Homo sapiens: one gene and its partner. The protein of the gene in region 2 interacts with the protein of the main gene of each other region in a pairwise test. Each region holds a gene or a part of one and is shown on either strand. Other genes may lie near its edges.

Evidence for each region.
Region 1: the proteins of SLC5A8 (region 2) and PDZRN3 interact in a two-hybrid assay, tested with the Homo sapiens proteins (one study listed by BioGRID).

Annotation. Positions count from the first base shown.
Region 1 is NC_000003.12:73,621,942-73,629,941, reverse strand, and holds the start of PDZRN3 (E3 ubiquitin-protein ligase PDZRN3), read left to right. Parts: upstream 1-5,000; 5' UTR 5,001-5,116; coding exon 5,117-5,839; intron 5,840-5,976; exon of another isoform or gene 5,977-6,374; intron 6,375-8,000. UniProt on the Homo sapiens protein: E3 ubiquitin-protein ligase. Plays an important role in regulating the surface level of MUSK on myotubes. Mediates the ubiquitination of MUSK, promoting its endocytosis and lysosomal degradation. Might contribute to terminal myogenic differentiation.
Region 2 is NC_000012.12:101,154,698-101,158,238, reverse strand, and holds the end of SLC5A8 (sodium-coupled monocarboxylate transporter 1), read left to right. Parts: intron 1-837; coding exon 838-960; 3' UTR 961-2,746; downstream 2,747-3,541. UniProt on the Homo sapiens protein: Acts as an electrogenic sodium (Na(+)) and chloride (Cl-)-dependent sodium-coupled solute transporter, including transport of monocarboxylates (short-chain fatty acids including L-lactate, D-lactate, pyruvate, acetate, propionate, valerate and butyrate), mocarboxylate drugs (nicotinate, benzoate, salicylate and 5-aminosalicylate) and ketone bodies (beta-D-hydroxybutyrate, acetoacetate and alpha-ketoisocaproate), with a Na(+):substrate stoichiometry of between 4:1 and 2:1.

The DNA of each region.
Region 1 (8,000 bases), on a different chromosome or scaffold from region 2:
TGGCTGTTCATAATTCTGAATTGATTTTGTTATGGGAACAATGTTCTAAATGTTGATAGGTACTCCAACTAGGACACAGAGGCCTATTTAACTCATACTGTGATACATATACCTCATGCTGGTAGTACCAACCCACGCTTAAGAGCTGAGCAGCAGGAACTTACATGGAGCAGGAAGAGGGAACAGTTATTTGTTCAATATTTATTACGTTTCTACTAAGTGTTAAACATGGGGGACAGAACGTGAACACGATTGCCCTACTCTATAATAGAGTGTAATATGTGGCATGGACACTAGACATTGATCAAGCTGTGCTCCTCTGCTGCCCAAAATACTTCAGTGCCAATCAGCACTAGAATCAATTCAATCTCTTTCCTCCACAGGTCCTGCAGGCCCGTGTCCATTTGGTTCTCGCCTACTTTTTACCCTTGTTTGATTCTTCTTCGCTCGGCTTACTCTGCTCCAAGTTCTAGGCACACTCTGTCTAATTCAAATAGACCATGTGCTTGCTTCGAACCTCAGCACTTTCTCTTGTTCTGCCTGGATTGTTCTTCTCCCAGCTATTGCTGGCTCAGTCTCACCCTTCAAGCGACAACTCACACTTCCCCTCCCCAGACAGCCCTATTTCAAATGGGCCCCTTTGATTTTTCTCCAGCATGTAAGCTGCTTTTATGGTGTTGACAGCAGTGATTCTCAAACTTTAAGTGCACACAAATCACTTGGTGATCTTGCTAAAAGGCAGATTCTGATTCAGTAGGTCCAAGGTGCGGCCTGAGATTCTGCACTTTCAACATGCTTCCAGGTTATGCCCATGTTTCTGGTCCCCAGACCACACTTTGAGCAGCACTGTATTAGGGAACTTATCATATTCCATAATCATCTCATTTATTATTCATTTATTGATATCTGCTGTTCCTTATCGTGAAATGAAGGCTTAAGAGGGGAGGGACACTGCTTATTATTTTTGGTAGCCTTTGTAGCCCCAGTGCAAGAACAGCCTCTTCTTTGCATATAATAGCTACTAAATAATTATTAGATAAATTAAGACATTTCAAGTGTGATCATTGTTATACAAGGGTATGTGCTTGGGGCTGTGGAAACTAATCCCATCTGGAGAGTTGGGAAAGGAGAGCCAGACTTTTGCAGACCAGAATTTGCTCAAATTTGTAAGAAGTATTTTCGCAATTCTTGTTCTTCTGCCTAGTGTCCCTACTGTGATAACTCATCCTGACTTACCAAAGTCTTCAAAAGTCTCCAGAATAGAGAACTACCTTCTCTTCTCCCTACCTTTCAACCCATGGCCAAACGAATGTGTCAGGCTCCAGGATGGCTAACATTGGCTATGTTAACAGGCAAGCAGTCTGACCGAAATGTTTCACACTTGTTTTTGTGGATGACTGCTGTACCTTATTACGCTCTGGTGGTACTTTCATTTGGTAAAAGCAGATCCTTATCTAATTGTATAGTGCTATTTTAGCTAGTAGAATACAAATATGTACGCCTGGGGAAGAAAATTTAAAAAACAAATGTAAAAACCCTTGACTTTCTTTTTGTTTGTTTTTTCTAGTACTGAAGCCACAAATTATCCAGACCCTACGAGCAGCTGAGGATTGATAACCAGCAAACATGGAGGGGTGGAGTTCTTATCCATATCATTTGTAAGGGAGTGCCTCCTGAGCTGGAGCTTATGGAGGAGACGCATAATGCTTATGGTGATTAAGAGTGAGGGTTCTGAAATTCTCCTGTTGACATCCCTGACTGGAGGCATACCTTATGTAACCTTATAAGGTACCTACGCCTACTTAGATATCTTATGTAACCTCTATAAACCTCAGTCTCTCCATCTGTAAAACAGGGTGGACAACATATCTACCTCTCTATGTGCAGTGAGGATTAATGAGACAATGAAGGTCAAGTGCTGAGCACAGTGCCTGATACCTAGTAACAGTTCCCAAAAAAGTGGTAGATATTATTATCAACTTCTGATTAAACATGCTGATGGAAAGAACACTAAAAACAGAGTTTAAAATCAGAATGGGATCGTGGTGAATATAGAAATAGTATTTTTATTAGGCTTGGGGCCACATTTTGGTTAGAAAGTGCAGAATCAGATGATAAAAGGAAGGGGTAAGAGCAAGAGGTAGTGGAAGTCGCAAAAATAATTTGCAAAGTGACCAATCCAGCTGTCCACAAGGAATTCATCCATATATAAACACTCAGATGTTTCTGGGACGGTTGAGTAAGTATCTAATCCATGTCAGAAAAATCAGCTACTTTTCTCAGGAGGCCTGCCACACCAAACATTCATCTTCCTACAGTTTTTATTCATGTTTATTGGTATGGTGCCTTGAGTTTTCGATTTATAATAACATCCCTCTCTCACTGTGCAGCATTCACCAGGTGGTTCCACAGCCAGCAGAAAATGTGGGCTGACAGCATTGCCTGACTTCAGTAATGAGCAGAAAGCTTCCTTAAAACTGTGGTTCTCAACCTGGTTGTCACAACAAGGGGTTGTTACTATGTCTATTGGATAGTGGCCAGAGATGCTCCTAAATATCCTGCAATGCAGACGATAACCAACCCCCCACCCCCACACACACCACAACAAATAATTATTTGAATGAAAATGTCAGTAGTACCAAGGTTGAGTAACTCTGCCCTCAACTCCTTTTTCCTAATATTTTTGGCTCTCGTTTCTCCTGTTAAGTTTGGTGACTGAAATAATAGTCTTGCCAGCTCTGACATTGTAGGATTTTTTTTCTAACCTCCAAGAATTTTGATACTAAAATTAACCATTGAGGAGTGGCACAGACTTTCCTTTTGCCTAAAGAGGCCAATCCACAGTAGGCTATGGCTTCTCTGTGGCCTCAGCTGTAGCATTTCAGCAACAACCTCTCAATCTGCCATCTGGGAGACCACCCGAGGGGTGGTAGAACATCTCCAAAAAAGTGTACACCCCAAGTAAGCACTAATTTACATTTATGGTGTAGGACAGAACTTCTCTGTTTCTCAAAACCAGTTTGGTTTGAAGATTATCACCCTGTTGACACTAGCTCATTCTGTGAAACTGACAAGCCCACACACCTTTGGTGAAAGAATTTGTTTCCTACCCATTATCTGAGAGCCCATGAGCAGTTTAATGAATATACTGATGGAGGATTCCCTGGCACAAGCTTATCTGAACAAAGGCCAATAATATTCCACCCCATGCAGAATCCTATCAAAGCAATGCATTAATTGATTAAAGCAATTAAAAGAAAGTCTCCACCTCAAATAGGCAACAAATGCCACCAAAACTGATTAAAGAACACTGTCCAGTGACCTCAACCATGCACTGAAAAATCTAGTGAGTGACAACTTTTTAAAGGTCAGTGTGAAACAAGTAATCCTTATGAACATCAAGGCAATTCTTTCACTCTGATGAAGCAGTTAAATAGTGAAGGTCATGGGGCTTTAGCAGCCACATAAAAGAAAGAAGGAAAGCAATTAGACAAAATGGATGCTGTAATCCCACTTTCCAGGCCCCAGAGTCTCGCTGAATACAGAGCTCCTGCTTTACTGTTCAGAACTCTCCCGCTTCACTGTTCAGAAACTGGAAGCAGATTCCAAATGAGAATTCCATAGCTTGATTCCACTCTCACCAAAAGCTGACTGCGTGTTTCTTAGGAATGTCTATAGCCTTGGGAGGTAAAAATAAAATAAAATAAAATCAATGGATGATGCTATGAACTTTACACCCAGTTTGGAATTCCAAAAATATTCCTCCATTGCTCAGGACTGTTGCTGAATCCTACCCAGCCAGGTTTGCTGTACTGCAGGGAATGAATGTCCAGATCTATGGATCGCCAGGGTTTTCCAATCAAGTGGGAATCCAAGGACCAGCATGGACTAGCAGCATTGGCATCACTTGGAAGTGCTTTCAGTATGGAGATTCTCAGAACCCGCCCCAGACCCACTGTATCAGAACCGCAACCACATTAAAATGTGAGAAACACTGACCTACAGGACCCTACAGGGCACTTTTGTTTTGTTTTGTTTTCTGTTTTGTTTTTATCCTTCTTCTAGCCTGAGTTTCCTCAATGGAAAGATGACAGAGTGTACACACAAAACAAACCAAAACTGAAGGAGGGCAGTTGTTGACATGATCATGGGGGTGATGAGTCTTCTCCCAGTTCTAACTTCTGCAGTCAGCATCGCTTCTTTTGTAATCACGGGAAAATAATTTTCAAATGGAGCTAACCCTCTCACAACATTGTACTAATGATCTTTAAAGCGACGGATTTAGAAGCGCTCAGCACCACGCTTGCCACACTGCAGGGCAGACACTTCAGAGGTGTTAGGTGAAGTGGATGGAGCCAGCACGCTGGCCTCTCCCACTCCGACAGCTGGCGAGCAGCTCTTGTCCACCAAAACTTCCCCGGGTAGATTCACCCACCGGTCCTGGAAACCTGCTAAATCCTGAAGGTTCACAGAACCTCTGGTCAGAACTGAAGTTGCAGCCGGAGCTTCCCGCAGGCTCTGTAACTTTCCCTGGAATGAAATAAATAAATAAAGACCGTAAGTGCTGAGATAGCGGGCCCCAAGATATTTTTAGTCCTCTGCAATCAGCCACTAGAGGAAGGGGGAGGGAGAAGGGAGTAAAAAAGTTTTGATCCGTTCGGGAAGGGGCTCGAAGAGAACCCTTGGGAGAAAGCAGTAGCCTCAGCTCCAAACTCAGCGAGCTTTTCTCGGCTGGCGTTTTGTCTCCTATAGCGTAGACTGTAAGAGAACAGAAAGGAGTTTCCCGAGAAGATTCAGGCTGGCGTCCTGGGCTGGCCCGTCCCTTCTGGCGAGCCTCAGTGTCCTCCCACGCGCTTCTGCCTTCCAGCCTCCTCCCTTTTTCGGGGGGCTGGCGGGAGGCATCCAAGGCACGATGTATGTGCGCTCGCGCTCGCGCAAATACGGCCGGAGGAGTCCTGTTCCTCGGGCATTTTCCGAGGAAGTCTGGATCAATTAGGCTCAGTCCGGGGAGAGCCAGCGAGCGCGCGGGCGGCGTAGCCGGCCTGTCTGGGCCGCCTCGTGGGGAGGGAGGGGGCGCCCGGCCGCCCGGCGGCGACCCCGGGGCCTGGCCGCCACCATGGGCTTCGAGCTGGACCGCTTCGACGGCGACGTGGACCCGGACCTGAAGTGCGCGCTGTGCCACAAGGTCCTGGAGGACCCGCTGACCACGCCGTGCGGCCACGTCTTCTGCGCCGGCTGCGTGCTGCCCTGGGTGGTGCAGGAGGGCAGCTGCCCGGCGCGCTGCCGCGGTCGCCTGTCGGCCAAAGAGCTCAACCACGTCCTGCCGCTCAAGCGCCTTATCCTCAAGCTGGACATCAAGTGCGCGTACGCGACGCGCGGCTGCGGCCGGGTGGTCAAGCTGCAGCAGCTGCCGGAGCACCTCGAGCGCTGCGACTTCGCGCCCGCGCGCTGTCGCCACGCGGGTTGCGGCCAGGTGCTGCTGCGGCGCGACGTGGAGGCGCACATGCGCGACGCCTGCGACGCGCGGCCAGTGGGCCGCTGCCAGGAGGGCTGCGGGCTACCCTTGACGCACGGCGAGCAGCGCGCGGGCGGCCACTGCTGCGCGCGAGCGCTGCGGGCGCACAACGGCGCGCTCCAGGCCCGCCTGGGCGCGCTGCACAAGGCGCTCAAGAAGGAGGCGCTGCGCGCTGGGAAGCGCGAGAAGTCGCTGGTGGCCCAGCTGGCCGCGGCGCAGCTTGAGCTGCAGATGACCGCGCTGCGCTACCAGAAGAAATTCACCGAATACAGCGCGCGCCTCGACTCGCTCAGCCGCTGCGTGGCCGCGCCGCCCGGCGGCAAGGTAGGCGCCTGCTGCCCGCCCCGACCTCCAGCCAGGATCCCTGGGGACCCAGGGCCCCGCCCCATCCCTTTGGGTACAGGGATGCCCCGAGCTTCCCGGGAACATCCTTGCTTCCTCCCTCTTCTTCCACTGCTTACCAGCTGTATCACTACTTGCAGGTCGCTGAACCTGCCTGAGGTGGAACACTGTGGTCCTTTATAGTCTAGACGTAACCGGTAAAGTATAGCTGTACAGCTTCAGGGATTCTGGAAGGACGAAAAAGAATTCACAAGCAAGTGTAGGATAAGAATGAAGAATGCAGCTCCAGAGTCAAAACTGCGTTCAAAGGCTTTGCTGCTCAGACCAGCTAGGGGATCTCGGGCAAGTTGCTTACCCTCTAGAGGTCAGAAACCTATAGACTGACACTTAGGAGAGGAGAGATGGACACATTGGGTGAATTGTATCCGTGCATCCTCTAGGATTCCAGAAAAAAAAATAAAGGGAACCCACAGCCAGTGTAGATTAAGTTAAGAAGGATATCAGAAGAGAGGCCTCTGGGGTAAAAGCTGGATGCAAGCGTGGGCTTTGCAGCCAACTAGCTGGCTGACCTTGAGCAAGCTGCTTAACCTCTCTAAAGTTGGAAACTATGGTCCCTAGAGACGTGGTATACAGAGTAAAAACACAGCCAGGCACCCCTGAGGTATTCATCCAGGGATTTCAGAAAGAATTAAAGGAGCACTCTGCCCCCAACAAGTATAAAGTAATAATTAAGTGTGAGTCCTCTGGAGTTAAAACTGTTTTCAAATCTGGGCTTTTTGCTGACCAGCTGGGTGAGCTTCTGGCTTAATTCCCAGATCCCTCAGTTTCCCTCAGTGCGAAAGGTTTTTGTCAGGCTTCAGGGAGAGAGTTTAGTAGAAGGGCCTCGTACTGTGCCTGGCAGAGAGTAAATAAATGCTCAACAAGTGTTACCTAGAATTATTTTTAACATCTCCACCTGAGCGGTCCCCTTGAGCGAGGGTTTACTTTGCTCCAGGCTGGGTGCTGCATTCTTCCCAGTCATTTCCTTTTTAATCAAGTGAGGTTGGTGTGACCCTTCCCACTTAGTAGATGAAAAAACTGAGGCTCATTAAGGGGCAGTTTCATGCCTGGGTCACAGCTTTTGGGTGCAAAGCTGCATGTTGAACCTTTGCGTGCCCATCTTTCCAGCCCACGTTCTATAAACTATCATGTTGCTCCTCAGTGCAACCACAAGGACCATTTATTGAGTGTTTATTAAGTGCCACCAACAATAGGAAGTACTTTACATGCATTACCTATGTTGTCCTTTGAGATGAGGGAACAGACTCAGAGAAGTTATATAACTTGTCCAAAATTAAGTAGTGACTCAGGGAGCAGAGCCGGACTCAGATTCTACCTCAGAGTTCTCAGTTTTGGGGCATATTGGCATTTTGGGCCCCATAACTCTTAGTTGGGAGGGGAGGTACTGTGCTGTGCATTGTAGGATGTTTAGCAGCATTCTTGGCCTCCCTCCCAAGTCGTGACAATCCAAATATTGTCAAGTGTCCTCTGGAGGGGCAAAGTCGCCCAGGTTGAGAACCACTGGTTTCCCTGATTGCAGAAGCCACATTTTCAACAGCTGGGTACTTCTGCCTTCCTGGGGAGGGGCCTGGGCCTGCTGCCACCGCTCTGGTTGCCTGCTCCAGATGGTGTGGCAGAAAGGGGAAAATATTTGCCCGAGGCTCCCCCAAGGGCCTGTGTCTGCTTTGCCTCTCTCTGCCCTCTCCCAGCCCCCTTTCCTTACGTGCACACCAGGCCTGCAAGTTTTCCGACCTGGCCCCCCTTCCTGGCCCCTGGCCTGTCTGTCAGCTGCAGTCTCAGCAGCTGGCCAGCTCTGGGCGAAGGGCAAATATTTACAGCTCCACAGCTTGCCCAGGACCTCACAGGCACACAAAAGACTGGTGTGAGCCTTCGAATCACCAAAACAGAGGGCAAAGCTTGGTCTTCAATCAGGCGCCAGATTTAGGGTGAAGGAGTTCCCGAGTTTCTGCTGTTTATGCTGTCATCTGGACTTCCTTCGTCGTTTTAAGTGACGCTTATTTATAAATAAGCCATTCACTGCCCCAGAGTTTATGCATCATTTATTGTTGAGCTAGTTTATTATTTCTTCTTAACTTTCTGTTTT
Region 2 (3,541 bases):
TTTCATTTACCTTGAGTTAGGAAACTGGGCTTTATTACCTGGATAGAACACTAATTAGTTCTCAACCTCTTTCTTGAAAAGTGATGGACAAGGAAGGTATAGACCCTATATAATCTGATGATCTATATATGTTGGATAGCTCTCTATCCTATGATGATCTATATCTGTTTTATAGCTCCATATCCTCTGATACGCTATACCTATTGCTTATCTGTGTATCCTCTGATGAGCTATATCTGTTGCATATCCTCTTTCCTTTGATGATCTTTATCTGCTGTATATCTCTCTATCCTCTGATAACCTATATCTGTTGTATATCCCTCTATTCTCTGATGAGCTACACCTGTTGTATATCTATCTCTCTCTATCCTCTGATAACCTATATCTGTTGTATATCCCTCTATTCTCTGATGAGCTATACCTGTTGTATATCTCTCTATATCTGTCTATCCTCTGATAATCTATATCTATTGTATCTCTCTCTATATCTGTCTATCCTCTGATAACCTGTATCTGTTGTATATCTCTCTATATCTGTCTATCCTCTGATAACTTATATCTGTTATATCTCTCTATATATCTGTCTATCCTCTGATATTATAAATCTGTTGTATATCTATTGTCTGATGGGCTATTTTGTATCTATCTTCTGATAACCTGTATCTGTTGAATATCTCGGTATCCTCTGAGGAAGTATACCTGTTATATATTTCTCTCCCTCAGTAGATTAGAAAGCTGATGCAGAGAAATAAAAATAGTAGAAACAATTATTTAGAATTACATGAATGAAGAGCTTCTTTTTCTCCCCCTAATCACCATGTTAACATTTTCTTTTAGAAGAAGCATGTTTTGAGCTATAAATCACATCCAGTGGAAGATGGTGGAACTGATAATCCTGCTTTCAACCACATTGAATTGAACTCAGATCAGAGTGGCAAGAGCAATGGGACTCGTTTGTGAAGCTGCTCTGATACTAGATATCCTTAAATGATGTTTCAATTTTATATGTTTTCTAAGATAATTGGATCAGGTTTTCTTTGTGTGTGTGTGTGTGTTGTATCATGAGTGTTTGGGGGATAAGTTTTTGTTAAAACAAAGTCTGGACTATCTTCATTTACTACATCATTAATTGATGTTACTCTGGAGTTTAGAATTCTGGCATTGACATTTCCCTCTCTTTCCTTTATTTCGATGAAGCTATAATTGTGAAAATTGTAACTACATAGATGCTGAAAGGCTAATACACACATATGCACATGTATTTGATTGTCAAAGGTATATTCTTAAATTTGGGTATTATTGAAAATATTTTCCATGCCTTGGTGCTAGCATATAAGTTTGGAAGTTTGCCAACATCACAATTCATCTTGAAAAGAGCTTTTTTCCCTCCTACCACATACACCATTCTTAGGGAGCAATGAGGTAACAGGTCTGTGTTGTCTAGATCTTTGCTTTTTATCCCCCTATCAGTCCAGGGCATATACTAACCTGCAAACTGATTCTGAATCAGGAAGGTGGTAATCAATAAGTATTCTGGCTGGGAAAGACCGTGGGCCCAATGATCAAAGTCTTCTTGGTGCTGTTCATTAATTCTTGTGCCTTTTGGCTTGTTTTCTAGAGTTTCTGGGCTTTGGCTGCTGATACTGCCTTTCTTAGACTGTAATTTTTATCTGCATGCCCAGTTTCTGACCTATCAACTTGGGTTTTATTGTGCACTCTAACTGAGCTTGTCTTCATAATTTTCTGTTTATTGCCCTGGGCTTGGATATGTCTCAAGACACTCATGTGAATCATGCCACCCCAAATCCTGGCTTATCAAGTCCCAGACTATAAATTATGAACTCCCATTAGCTTGGTACTAACATATACTTGATGTAGGTATTTATGGACTTGATGATCCAAGAATATTATATTCTTCAAAATGGTTAAGCTCCATGGAGTTAGATGACTACACTTAATGCTATTAAGTTGAACTTTTGAATGTCAACTAATTTGCAATCAATTAAAGATACATATGCCTAGAAATTTTGAAATTTCGGTATATTTATCCAGTTAAAGGGCTAAATTATATAAGCAAACACTACTTTTTTTAAAACGTCTGGACTCAAAAAATGCTTTGTTCCATGTTTTAAAATTTTTAAGTAGCAGTCTCAAAGTTGCTTAGCTGTTTATTTTGCTATGTTCCTAGCTAAGAGTTTGGTTATAGGAGTTCATCAATAACTTATTTTTTGTACAGTTCCCACATTAGATACTGTTTAAAAGTTCTTTTTTAAACTCAATTTTTTTTAGAAACATAAGAGAAATATTTAGATACATACAAATGTTTTTATGATTAAATAATTTTATGCTTATTTTCTGATACGTGTTATTTAGGTAATCATGCCCTGTACATTTAGAGGTTGCTAACTGACAATGTTAAGAAATTTAAAAAAAAAAAAAAGCCTGGGCATGATGGCTCATGCTTGTAATCTGAACATTTGGGAGGCTGAGGCAGGAAGATCGCTTGAGGTCCAGAGTTTAAGTCCAGCCTGGAAACATAGTTAGACCTCATCTCTACAAAAATAAAAAATAAAAATAAAAAAAACTTAGCTAGGCATGTTGCCACATACTTGTAGTCCCAGTTATTAGGGAAGCTGAGGTGGGAGGATAGCTTAAGCCCAGGATTTCAAGGCTGCATTGAGCTATGATTACACCACTGCACTCCAGCCTGGGTAACAGAGTGAAATCTTGTCTCTGGGAAAAAAAAAAAAAAAAAAAAAAAAGAGAGAGAGAGAGGGAGATTTATATAACATTTAAATTAACTGCATAAACCTGGGCAATGTTCAAAACTCCATCTCTACAAAAAAACACAAGAATTAGCCAGGCACGGTGGTGTGTGTCTGTAGTCTCAGCTACTTAGGAGGCTGAGGTGGGAAGATTGCTAGAGCCAGGAGGTCGAGGCTGCACTGAGCTGTGATTGCGCTACTGTACTCCACCCTGGGTGATGAAGCCCTAACTCAATAAATAAATAAATAAATAAATAATACAAATAAATTAACTATATATTCATGTATTTCTTATGTGGATATATGTTATTTTTTTTTCCTGCTTTTCTTTTTTTTTATTTTTTTATTATACTTTAAGTTTTAGGGTACATGCGCACATTGTGCAGGTTAGTTACATATGTATACATGTGACATGCTGGTGCGCTGCACCCACTAACTCGTCATCTAGCATTAGGTATATCTCCCAATGCTATCCCTACCCCCTCCCCCAACCCTACCACAGTCCCCAGAGTGGATATTCCCCTTCCTGTGTCCATGTGATCTCATTGTTCAATTCCCACCTATGAGTGAGAATATGCGGTGTTTGGTTTTTTGTTCTTGCCATAGTTTACTGAGAATGATGATTTCCAATTTCATCCATGTCCCTACAAAGGACATGAACTCATCATTTTTTATGGCTGCATAGTATTCCATGGTGTATAAGTGCCACATTTTCTTAATCCAGTCTATCATTGTTGGACATTTGGGTTGGTTCCAAGTCTTTGCTATTGTGAATA